2 separate regions of the Homo sapiens genome follow, and region 1 is linked to region 2. The links come from fine-mapping of genetic effects on gene expression. A gene starts in region 2. The other region holds a variant in brackets. All regions are shown on one strand. Distances are from middle to middle.

What was found. PIP is the estimated chance that this variant, and not a neighbour inherited with it, causes the effect. A credible set is the group of variants that fine-mapping cannot tell apart.
Region 1: its variant is the best candidate, but not a certain one, in a credible set for the expression of TICRR in esophagus muscle (GTEx, PIP 0.83).

What each region holds. Positions count from the first base shown.
Region 1 is chr15:89,525,636-89,531,012 of GRCh38, forward strand. No RefSeq gene overlaps it. Among named protein-coding and RNA genes, the nearest start is that of LINC00928, 4.3 kb to the left of the region's middle. The variant A/G (reference allele first, on the strand shown) is at 2,624.
Region 2 is chr15:89,572,942-89,578,318 of GRCh38, forward strand. TICRR (TOPBP1 interacting checkpoint and replication regulator) reads left to right here and starts at 2,528. Exons shown (of 22, transcript NM_152259.4): 1 at 2,528-3,299. The coding sequence starts at 2,646. RefSeq lists a silencer at 2,516-2,805 and an enhancer at 2,927-3,455.

The sequences.
Region 1 (5,377 bases), 47 kb before region 2:
CTCTACTAAAAACACAAAAATTAGCTAAGGCGTGGTGGCAGGCACCTGTGGCCCCAGCTATTCGGGAGGCTGAGGCACGGGAATTGCTTGAACCTGGGAGGCAGAGGTTATAGTGAGCTGAGATTGCACCACTACACTCCAGCCTAGGTGACAGAGTAAGACTCTGTCTCAAAAAAAAAAAAAAAAGAATCAAGACACCAAAGTGGGAAAAAGCTTTTAAGTGCAGGTGGCCTCTAGAAGAGGGGGCAAGCAAGGAAACAGATTCTCCCTGAGCCTCTAGAAGGAACACAGCCAACACCTTGATGGTAGCCCAGTGAGACTCATTTTTAATTTCATACCTCCAGAATTGTAAGAGAATAGATTTCTGTTGGTTAAGCCACCGAGTTTGTGGTGATTTGTTACAGCAGCCACAGGAAATGAATATAGGCCCCATTCAGACCTGCTGGGTGGGAGACTCTGCAGGTGGGGTCTGGCGTCCTGTATTTACCAAACTCTTCAGGGGGTTCAGAGGCACGCCAAAGTTTGAGAACCACTGCTCTTAAATGGTGGTTCTTGACCTTCGTGGAACATCACACTCATCCGGGGTGTTTCCAAAAACACTCGTACCCAGCTCTACTCCCAGAAATTCCAATTTGATTGGCTACGGTAAGGTTCAGGCGTTTCATTTGTAAAAGCTCCGTCTACTGTTCTAGTGCTCTGCACTGCCAGAACTGGAAAGCTGGGCTTCCCTTCCCACTTGCTGCTTCCCACTTCTCACTTCTGCCTCTGCTTCCACCTTCTCTTCTCTAGATGTTGGGTCCATCTTAGTCTCCTCTTTCCTTCTTGGCTGAACAGTCGTGAGGCTTCCTCCTGAAATGGCAAGGGATGAGTTTGCCAGTATTTCTAACTAAAGAAAAATTAATTTATAATATGCTATATAATTTTTATTATATGTTAATATAATAAACTCAATACTGTCACAAACCCAATATTCTGGTTCAGGGGACAGATTTAGTCACACACTCCTAGAAGAGAAGGATGTTGGAGAGTGTCTAGCCCCACAACACCCTTTCTAGTTTGGGAAACTGAGGCCCAGAAAGAGAAAGTGACTAGTCCAAGGTTACAGAAGGGAGGCACAGAGCCTGGGACCAAACCCTGGTCTTCTGATCTAAAGCCTGCTGTCCTTTCACCTTCTAACTTTACTCTGGCTCTGTTCCCTGCACTGGAATATAGAGGACTCCAGGCAAGGATCTGGCTCTTAAAAAAAAAAAAAACCAGCCACCCCCTCTCTCCCCATTTCTAGGCAAGGCAGAAGGGGGCCCGTGCAGCAAGCAGGTGCTGGAACCTTCTGGGGATGACCTTGAGCTGGGTCTGGATGGCAGGAATGATTCTGATGACCGATAAGTCTCGATCTTGGGGGAGGAGAGGCAGTCAGCTGAGACTATCGCACCTGGGAAGCAACCAGCCAGGTTGCCACCTGCCCTGGGCAGGACAGCAGCCCAGAGAAAGAGAAGGATGGTGGGGAGGGGTGAGGAGAGGCCAGGCCTGGGCCAAGGGCCTGCAAATAGCCTCCTCCTGACTGCAGGGGCCCTGGGCTAATAGAGGCAGAGAACTGCAGTGAGGTCAGGTCCTCTGGCACCTGGTGCCTGTCTACGCCCTCTCTTAACACGTGCAGGACCGCCGCCTGCCCCCCTCCCCGGCAAGGTTGTACAGCAGAAAGAGGGGTGAGATGGAGGTAGTGAGTGGGTATAGGGAACTCACCCTGGCTGCCTTGTGGCAAGTTTGGGAGAGGCAGTCGTGTGGAGTACTTAAAGGCACAGGCAGTGTTTGGAATCACAGAATCTGTCACTTTCAGCTGTGTGACCTGGAACAAGTCCCTGAGCCTCTCTGGGCCAGTCTCCTCTCCTGTAAAATGGGGATGATTCCTGGTTCTTGTGAGGAGTCTGAGAAAATACATGTACATGTGTGTGCATTTGGGGCTCAGAAAATGGCAGGCAGCAAGCATCATGAAGTGTCCAAACTGCCTGGGTTCACATCCCAGCCCCACCCCTTTCTACCTAGCCGTGACCATGCTGTGTCTATTTCCTCTTCTGGAAAATGGGCTGGCAGTAGCACCTACCTTATAGGAGTCAGTGAATTAACAGATGCAAAATGCTTAGGACAGGGGCCTGGCTCAGTGGGTGCTCCAAACCACCACCTTTAGTTTGGCTTCTGATATCAATGCTGCTGTGTACCCATCGAGGACTCTCATGGCAAGACTGGGAGAGGCAGTAGTGTGAAGTCCTTAAAGTGCTAGGTCCTAGGAGGTCTTCGTACTCACGTAAACATTTATAAGACTAGAGAAAAAAAATTACTGGCTTCAAAATATGAAAGGAAAACTGCAAAGTCAAAATTAGTGACCCTTTTGCTAAATGTCCACAAAACACACTATTACTTCAACTTTATAAACTATGTCTGAAACATGTCATAACACTTGAAATCAATTTATTGGCTAGATTATTCTCCTTCTTCAAGAACTTAAGTGACTAACGATGACTAAAAAATCAGAACAAGCATAACTTATGTAACTCGTAACAAAAGAACTTCACATGCAAAATTACAAAAATTATTTTAATAGATCATTGTAACAATTGAAAAAAAGGCA[A/G]ACACTTTAGATCTCTGTAAGGAATATATATAAAGTTTAAGGAAATAAATGGGAACAATATCCTCCAAATTTAGGGTGGTAGTTATCTCTGCTGTAAGGAGAGTGGATCAGAGAGGCCACACAGGATGTTTCAACCCTCTAGGTAGCATTTTATTTCTTAAGTTAGGTGGTGAATCCCACAGATTTGTACTGTATTATTCTTTGTCTCCTTTTTGTACATATGAAAAATGTTGTAACAAAATTTAAAAGTATGGTTTGGTAGCAAAAAGAAGAGCAAGAAATGTCCCCGGATAATTTCAAATTATTTTATGGCAAATTTGTATTTAATGAGAAATGTTAGGGATTTCACATTCCTACATAATGTCAGGCAGGGTTTCCAAAAGCAAGTCCCCAAGGCCCTGACTCTACCAATGGTCCTCCAGGCCCCAGACCCCTCACCTGGTGTCTTAGCTTGCTCGGGCTGCTATAATGAAAATGGATGGCTTAGCAGAAATTTATTTCTCACAGTTCTGGAGGCGGGAAAGTCCAAGATCAAAACACTGGTGGACTCAGTATCTGGCGAGAGAGGTGAGGGCTAGGAGATGGGGTGGAAGGCTGGACTCAGGGGCAGCCTCAGGATGGAGCAGGCAGCCTAGACCCTTGGCTAATGCCAGTCTCTGCTAAGTTCAACCCTGGGGGAATTTGTCCAATTCTTGGCAGATGCAGTCTCTGTTGTCAAGGGTCTAAAGGTCAGTGGAGAGAGATCCACAAACAGGCATGAAAGAAGGTAAACACACTGATTACCTTAATTTACTGAAAGGCTGTGGCAGGGGTCCCCCATCACCACCCTGTACTGATTTGTGGCCTGTTGGGAACCAGGCTGCACAGCTGGAGGTGAGTGGCAGGCTAGCGAGCATTACCACCTTAGCTCCACCTTCTGTCAGATCAGCTGCGGGATTCAATTCTCACAGGAGCTCCAACCCTGTTGTGAACTGTGCATGTGAGGGATCCAGGTTGCATGCTCCTTATGAGAAACCATACCCGCCGCCCCTACTCCCTCCATGGAAAAATTGTCTTCCACAAAACCAGTTTCTGGTACCAAAAAGTTTGGGGAATTCTAGGCTATGGGAACACATCATTCTTTGTGGGGAATATAGGAAGCATCTCCTTTAAAATCCACATGAGGACAATGCCCACTGTCACCCCTTCTACCTAGCATGGCTGCAGAGGTCAAAGTCAGGTCATAAGACAAGATAATGAAATTAAAGGAGTAAAGTTCAGACAGGAGGAAACAAAATTATAGTGGCAGATTATGCGATCACATTGAAAACCAAAAGAATCAATAAACAAATTATTAGAAACAAAAGAATTAGCAAGATGGCTGACTATACCATCAATAATAATCATTTTAATTTACATTGACTCCCATTATACATACTAATAATAGCAATAGTTAACCTTTCCTTTTTTTTTTTTTTTTTTTTTTGAGACGGAGTCTCGCTCTGTCACTCAGACTGGAGTGTAGTGGCGCAATCTCGGCTCACTGCAACCTCCGCCTCCCAGGTTCAAGCGATTCTCCTGCCCAGCTTCCTGAGTAGCTGGGATTACAGGTGCCCACCACCACGTCCAGCTAATTTTTGTATTCTTGGTAGAGACGGGTTTCACTGTGTTGGCTAGGCTGGTCTTGAACGCCTGACCTCAAGTGATCCACCCGCCTCAGCCTCCCAAAGTGCTGAGATTACAGGCGTGAGCCACTGTGCCCGGCCTAGTTAACCTTTCTTAAATCAACATGCTTTGCACTCACTCTATGCTAAAAGCTTTCTATAGATCAGCTGTGTGCTTTGAACTACCCTGTGGAGTTGGCACTATCATCATCCCCATGTTAAGAAGGAGAAAACTGACAGTCAGAGAGATCAAGCAAATTTCCCATGGCTACATAGCTGGTGTGTGATGGAGGTGGGACCGCTTCCTATTACCTGCTACCTCATCCTGCACACTCCAGTGCACAAATCTCTGATGTCCAGGGTGGGACTCCAGATCTCAGGCCTTTCTCTCATTCTCTGCACATCACGAAAGTTTCCAATATTACTGTGTGAGCAGAGAGAGAGGGAAGGAAGGAAGGAAGGCCCAGTAGGGGCAATGAAACTTCCCTCCAGCCTACTGCAGTCAGACTTAACCTGAACTAAAGAAAATAAGTAAGTGTGATGTTTCTTGCGCACCTGAATTGTGGCTGCAAAGTTTCGCGTAGTGTGTTTCCTTTAATCTTATTCAAGCCTCAAAAGAGCTGTCTCCATTTTACCAATGAGGAAAGTGAAGCTCTGAGAAATTCAGAGACTTGTTCAAAGTCATGGAGATGGAAAGTGGCAGAGGCACTGTTGGATCCTAAGCTCACCGACCAGACATCAAGCCTGTTTAGACTTTTTCAAGGAGCTAGCAGGGAGGCAGACAGGGGCACAGTCATCCATACGGCAGTGTGGTGAGAGTGAGCCCTGGATAGACACCTGTGAGGACAGGAGCAGCTGAGGATTATTATTATGAGACAGGTTTTTAATTATTATTATTATGAGACAGCTTCCTGGAGGAAGTGGCTTTAAGCTGGGTGTTCAAAGATGAGTAGGAAAGAGCCAGGAGAAAAAAGCACTGAAGAAAGCATCAGGTGCAAAGGCCCAGAGTTGATAGAGAAGTGGGAGGTTCTCTCAACAGCCGGTAGCTCAGACAAGGCGGGAAAGAAACTGGCTGAGGAAGTCTTCTGTATCCACTGCTGACCACTGACCC
Region 2 (5,377 bases):
TGACTGGCATAAGGATGAAAGGTGTTATGAGCTGAGCTGTGTCCTCCCAAAAAGATATGTTGAGGTCCTGGCTGGGTGCAGTGGCTCACTTCTGTAATCCTAGCACTTTGGGAGGCCGAGGCAGGTGGATCACGAGGTCAGGAGATCGAGACCATCCTGGCTAACATGGTGAAACCCTGTCTCTACTAAAAATACAAAAAAAAAAAAATAGTCGGGTGTGGTGGCTGGCGCCTGTAGTCCCAGCTACTTGGGAGGCTGAGGCAGGAGAATGGCGGGAACCCAGGAGGTGGAGCTTGCAGTGAGCCAAGATCGCGCCACCGCACTCCAGCCTGGACGACAGAGCGAGACTCCATCTCAAAAAAAAAAAAAAAAAAGATATGTTAAGGTCCTCCTATCCCCCAGCATCCCCCAGAATGTGATCTTATTTGAAAATAGGGTCTTGTAGAAGTAAGCAAGTTAAAATAAAGTCATTAGGGTGGGCCCTAATCCAACATGACTGGTGTCCTTATAAAAGGGAAGTTTGGACACAGAGACAGCCATGCACAGAGGGAAGATGACGGGAAGACACACAGGAAGAACACCAAGAATTGCCAGCAAACATCAGAAACTAGAAGAGTCAAAGGATGATTCTCCCCTAGAGCCATGGGGGCTGGAGGGGAGCAAGTGCATGCCAACACTTTGATTTTGGACATCAAGCCTTCAGAACTGTGAGGCAATTTTTGGGTTTGATCCTTTGTTATGGCAGGCAGCCCTAGAAAACTCAACCAAAAGAGAAAATTGTTGTACATGAGGCAGTAATTGCTGAGGACTTTGATTGGAGAAGCCAAGGCACATAAAGGAAGTTGTAGCCAAAGCATATAAAGGAAGTTGTTCTGTTTCCAGGTGGAAACAGAATTACTTAGCAAGCAGAATTCAATGGTGTGGAGTATTGGATCAATCTCCCTAAACACATATTCAGGTAACCGACCTTCATTTTTTGTCCCCTTCTTCTTTCCAAATACCATATTCCACTGATCCTAGAGGCACATCTCACATCTCTGAAATCAGCCTGTTCACTGGTGTCCAGCAAGAGGAAGTGTAAAAAAGTTTCAAAAAAAATCACATGGAGAGACCATCACAGACAACTTCCGGTACACAATATTATATTAACAGTTTAAAAATATGCATATAAATGCATTTCTATCTATATATAACTTCTATCTATGATTATCTATCTATATATAATTCCTTTTTTTTTTGTTTTGTTTTTTTTTTTTTAGTAGAGACAGGGTTTCACTGTGTTAGCCAGGATGGTCTCGATCTCCTGACCTGGTGATTCGCCCGCCTCGGCCTCCCAAAGTGCTGGGATTACAGGCGTGAGCCACCGTGCCCGGCCTATCTATATATAATTCTATGTATTCTATCTATATAGCGATATATAATTTCTATCTGTAATGCAAATCTACATGTGATTTCTATCTATATATACATGTAGATAGAAAATTTAGGGAATTCACTGCAGGTGCTGCTTGCAGTCCACTTTTAAAACCTAACATTACATAATAAAACACTATTTTAAGAAGCTGCACTAGGCCGGGCTTGGTGGCTCACGCCTGTAATCCCAGCACTTTGGGAGGCCAAGTCGGGTGGATCACAAGGTCAGGAGTTTGAGACCAGCCTGGCCAACATGGTGAAACTCCGTCTTTACTAAAAATACAAAAATTAGTCTGGGGTGGTGGCGTGCGCCTGTAGTCCTATTCAGGAGGCTGAGGCAGGAGGATCGCTTGAACCCGGGAGGTGGAGGTTGCAGTGAGCCAAGATCGTGTCAATGCACTCCAGCCTAGGAGACAGAGCGAGACTCCGTTTCAAAAAAAAAAAAAAAAAAAAAAAAAAAAAAAAAGGAGCTGCACGATGCTCCCCTTGGGCGTGTACCATACCTTATTTAACCATTCCCAAACTGTTTCCATTTTTTCTGATGTTAAATAAACTCTAAGATGTACAGACGTCTTTTATCTGGCTCTCCGATTACCTTCTGCAGATAAACTCCTAGAAGTTACTGGGGCAAAGGGAGTGAACCTTTAATTTTTAATAAAATTTTTTAAATTACAGAAAAAGCCGTAGTCGTCAGATTCTACTTCCTAGGCGGTCCACAGGGATTTCAACAAGTTCGATTCAAACCATCCCAAATTCCCTCCCGGCACTAAGTTTTCCTCGGTCTTGGGAAACGTGGCCCCGCAGTCCGCACTCACGACTGCGCACAAACGCTGGCCTCTTTCCAATGGCGAAACTTCTCGACACGCCCCCGAGGCACCACCTCTTTAAAATTTAAAACGAAGGCCCAGGCCAATGAATGCTAAGCTTCTCTCGGACCACAGAGACCCGCCCACCGTCACTCCCTCCACCAATCAGACTGAAGTTTTCTCCACTGCCCCTCCAATCACCGCCAAAAATGGAAGTTGCTCTCGTAACTTACGTAAGGCAAGCAGCCAATAGGAGCAAACCTTGGAAACTAGCTCCCCCAATAGCAGCAGTTCCTGGAGAGCGCGGGAGCCTTTCGACCAGGGTCCCAAAGGAAAGCAGTGAGTGGTGCTGTTTCCCTGAAGGAAGGGACTAAGGGACGGTGGCGCGGGCCCGGACCGGGGCCCCGGGGCGGCGGCACGGCCGATATGGCATGCTGTCACAAAGTAATGCTGCTGCTGGACACCGCGGGCGGCGCCGCCCGCCACAGCCGGGTCCGGCGGGCCGCCCTGCGCCTCCTCACCTATCTGAGTTGCCGATTCGGCCTGGCCAGGGTCCACTGGGCCTTCAAGTTCTTTGACTCGCAGGGGGCGCGGAGCCGGCCGTCCCGCGTGTCTGACTTCCGCGAGCTGGGGTCCCGCTCGTGGGAGGACTTTGAGGAGGAGCTGGAGGCCAGGCTCGAGGATCGCGCCCACCTGCCCGGCCCGGCGCCCAGGGCCACCCACACGCACGGCGCCCTGATGGAGACGCTGCTAGACTACCAGTGGGACCGGCCCGAGATCACGTCGCCCACGAAGCCGATCCTGCGGAGCAGCGGGAGGAGACTGCTGGACGTGGAGAGCGAGGCCAAGGAGGCCGAGGCCGCGCTCGGGGGCTTGGTGAACGCCGTCTTCCTCCTGGCCCCCTGTCCGCACTCGCAGAGGGAGCTGCTGCAGTTCGTGTCTGGGTGCGAGGCCCAGGCCCAGCGCCTGCCGCCCACCCCTAAGCAGGTGATGGAGAAGTTGTTGCCCAAGAGAGTCCGGGAAGTCATGGTCGCCCGAAAAATCACCTTCTACTGGGTGGATACCACCGAATGGTCTAAGGTAAGGAAGGTTACTGTCGTCTCAGATGGCGTGCACGGTGCTTTCCTTGCTAACCAGAACTTGGCAGCGTCCTTAGAACAGCCACAGACCCCGAATGAGACTAATATGACTATGCGTCCCTTCGGAAGGAAACAAATAAATAGGAACAGTTTTCACAACAAAATGGGTAGTTCCTCACTACCTACTGTTTAAGACCCCTCACAATTTGGGCCCTACCTGCCTTCCCAGACTTGATTTTCCTACACACTACATCTACTCTAGCATATTGAAGTCCAGTCCAGAAAATCAACAGGTCTGGACTGCTTGTTTTGTGTTATGTGTGTTGTTCAATCTGCCTGGAATGCCAGTTCTCACTCTTCCAGGCCAGTCTTAACTTCACTTACCCTTTAAGGCTTCTTCTCCCAGTGACAACTGCTCAGTCCAGCGTCTGAATTGCCATACACATTTTGTGTGGCACTTAACCATTTCTCCATATGTTTTGATTATGCACATCTCTCACCCTCCATCTAGTCTAAAAATACCTCAGAGGCAAGCAGCAGGTTTTAACACAATACCCAGGGGTGTGTGTGTATGTGTGTGTGTATATATATATATATATATATATATATATATATATATATACACACACACACATATATATACACATTTATTTATATACATATATATATTTATTTATTATTATTTTTTGAGACAGTGTATGTCGCCCAGGCTGGAATGCAGTGGCTCACTGCAACCTCCACCCCTCCGGGTTCAAGCGATTCTCATGCCTCAGCCTCCCAAGTAGCTGAGACTACAGGCCCACGCCACCATGCCTGGCTAATTTTTTTGTATTTTCAGTGGAGACCAGGTTCCATGCTGCCCAGGCTGGTCTCAAACTCTGGCCTCAGGCAATCCGCCTGCCTTGGCCTCCCGAAGTGCCAGGATTATAGGTGTGAGCCACCACGCCCAGCCACCCAGATGTGTATTAAACGTTGTAGGTGTTCAGTCAGTATTGGCTGACTAAATGAGTACATTCTTGCGTACATTCTTGCAAACTTAAAGTCTTAAATGGCTAATTTGGATTTTTGCTGAGGCGGTGAGGCCCCCTGCTCCTGTTAAGTGCTAGGATAAGTATATACTTTTGCCTTCATCCTTCTCATTGCACTTCATTTAGTCAACAAATGTTCATTGAGAAGCCAGTAACATCTGAGTGCCTACCACACTGTTTGAGCTGCTGGGGACATGGTAACCAAAGCAGGGAACAGATTAAACAGATAAGCAAGTGACAATTTCAAATCATGCTCTGGAGAAAATAAAATGGGGTGAGAGGATGGGAGTAGAAGGTGGTTATTGTATACAGAGTGGTAGTGAGGGAAGGCCTTTTTTTTTTTTTTTTTTTTTTTTTTTGAGACAGAGTCTCGCTTTGTCACCCAGGCTGGAGTGCAGTGGCGTGATCTCGGCTCACTGCAACCTTCACCTCCTGGGTTCAAGCAATTCTCCTGCCTCAGCCTCCCAAGTAGCTGGGATTATAAGCGGGCGCCACCAGGCCTGGCTAATTTTTTTGTATTTTTAGTAGAGACGGAGTTTCACCATGCTACCCACCCTGGTCTCAAACTCCTGAGCTCAGGCAGTCCGCCAACCTCAGCCTCCCAAAGTGCTAGGATTACAGGCATGAGCCACCGTGCCTGGCAGGGAAGGCCTTTTTGAGCAGAGAATTGAATGGTGAAGGAGGAGGAACTCAAAGGTAGGTAAAGAACATTCCAGGTGAGGAGACAAGCAGGTGTAAGGATTTCAGCTGGAAATGAACTTAGTTTGTTTCAGAAACAAAAAGGCAAGGAGTGCTGAGACCTAGTAGGCAAGGGGAGCAGTGTGAGAGAAAGTCAGAAAGCAGGAGAGGCCGATCTGTAGGGCCAAGGTCAAAAATGTGGATTTTGTTCTAATTAATTAATGGGAAGGCTTTGGAATGTGGTTTAACCAAGTGAAAGATGTGATTCCACTTAATGGAAATACATGTCACTAACCCAGGAGTGAGTTAAATTGCAAGATTACAGATGGAAAATGAGCAAGCATTTAAATAATAATATGGTATGTTAAAATTT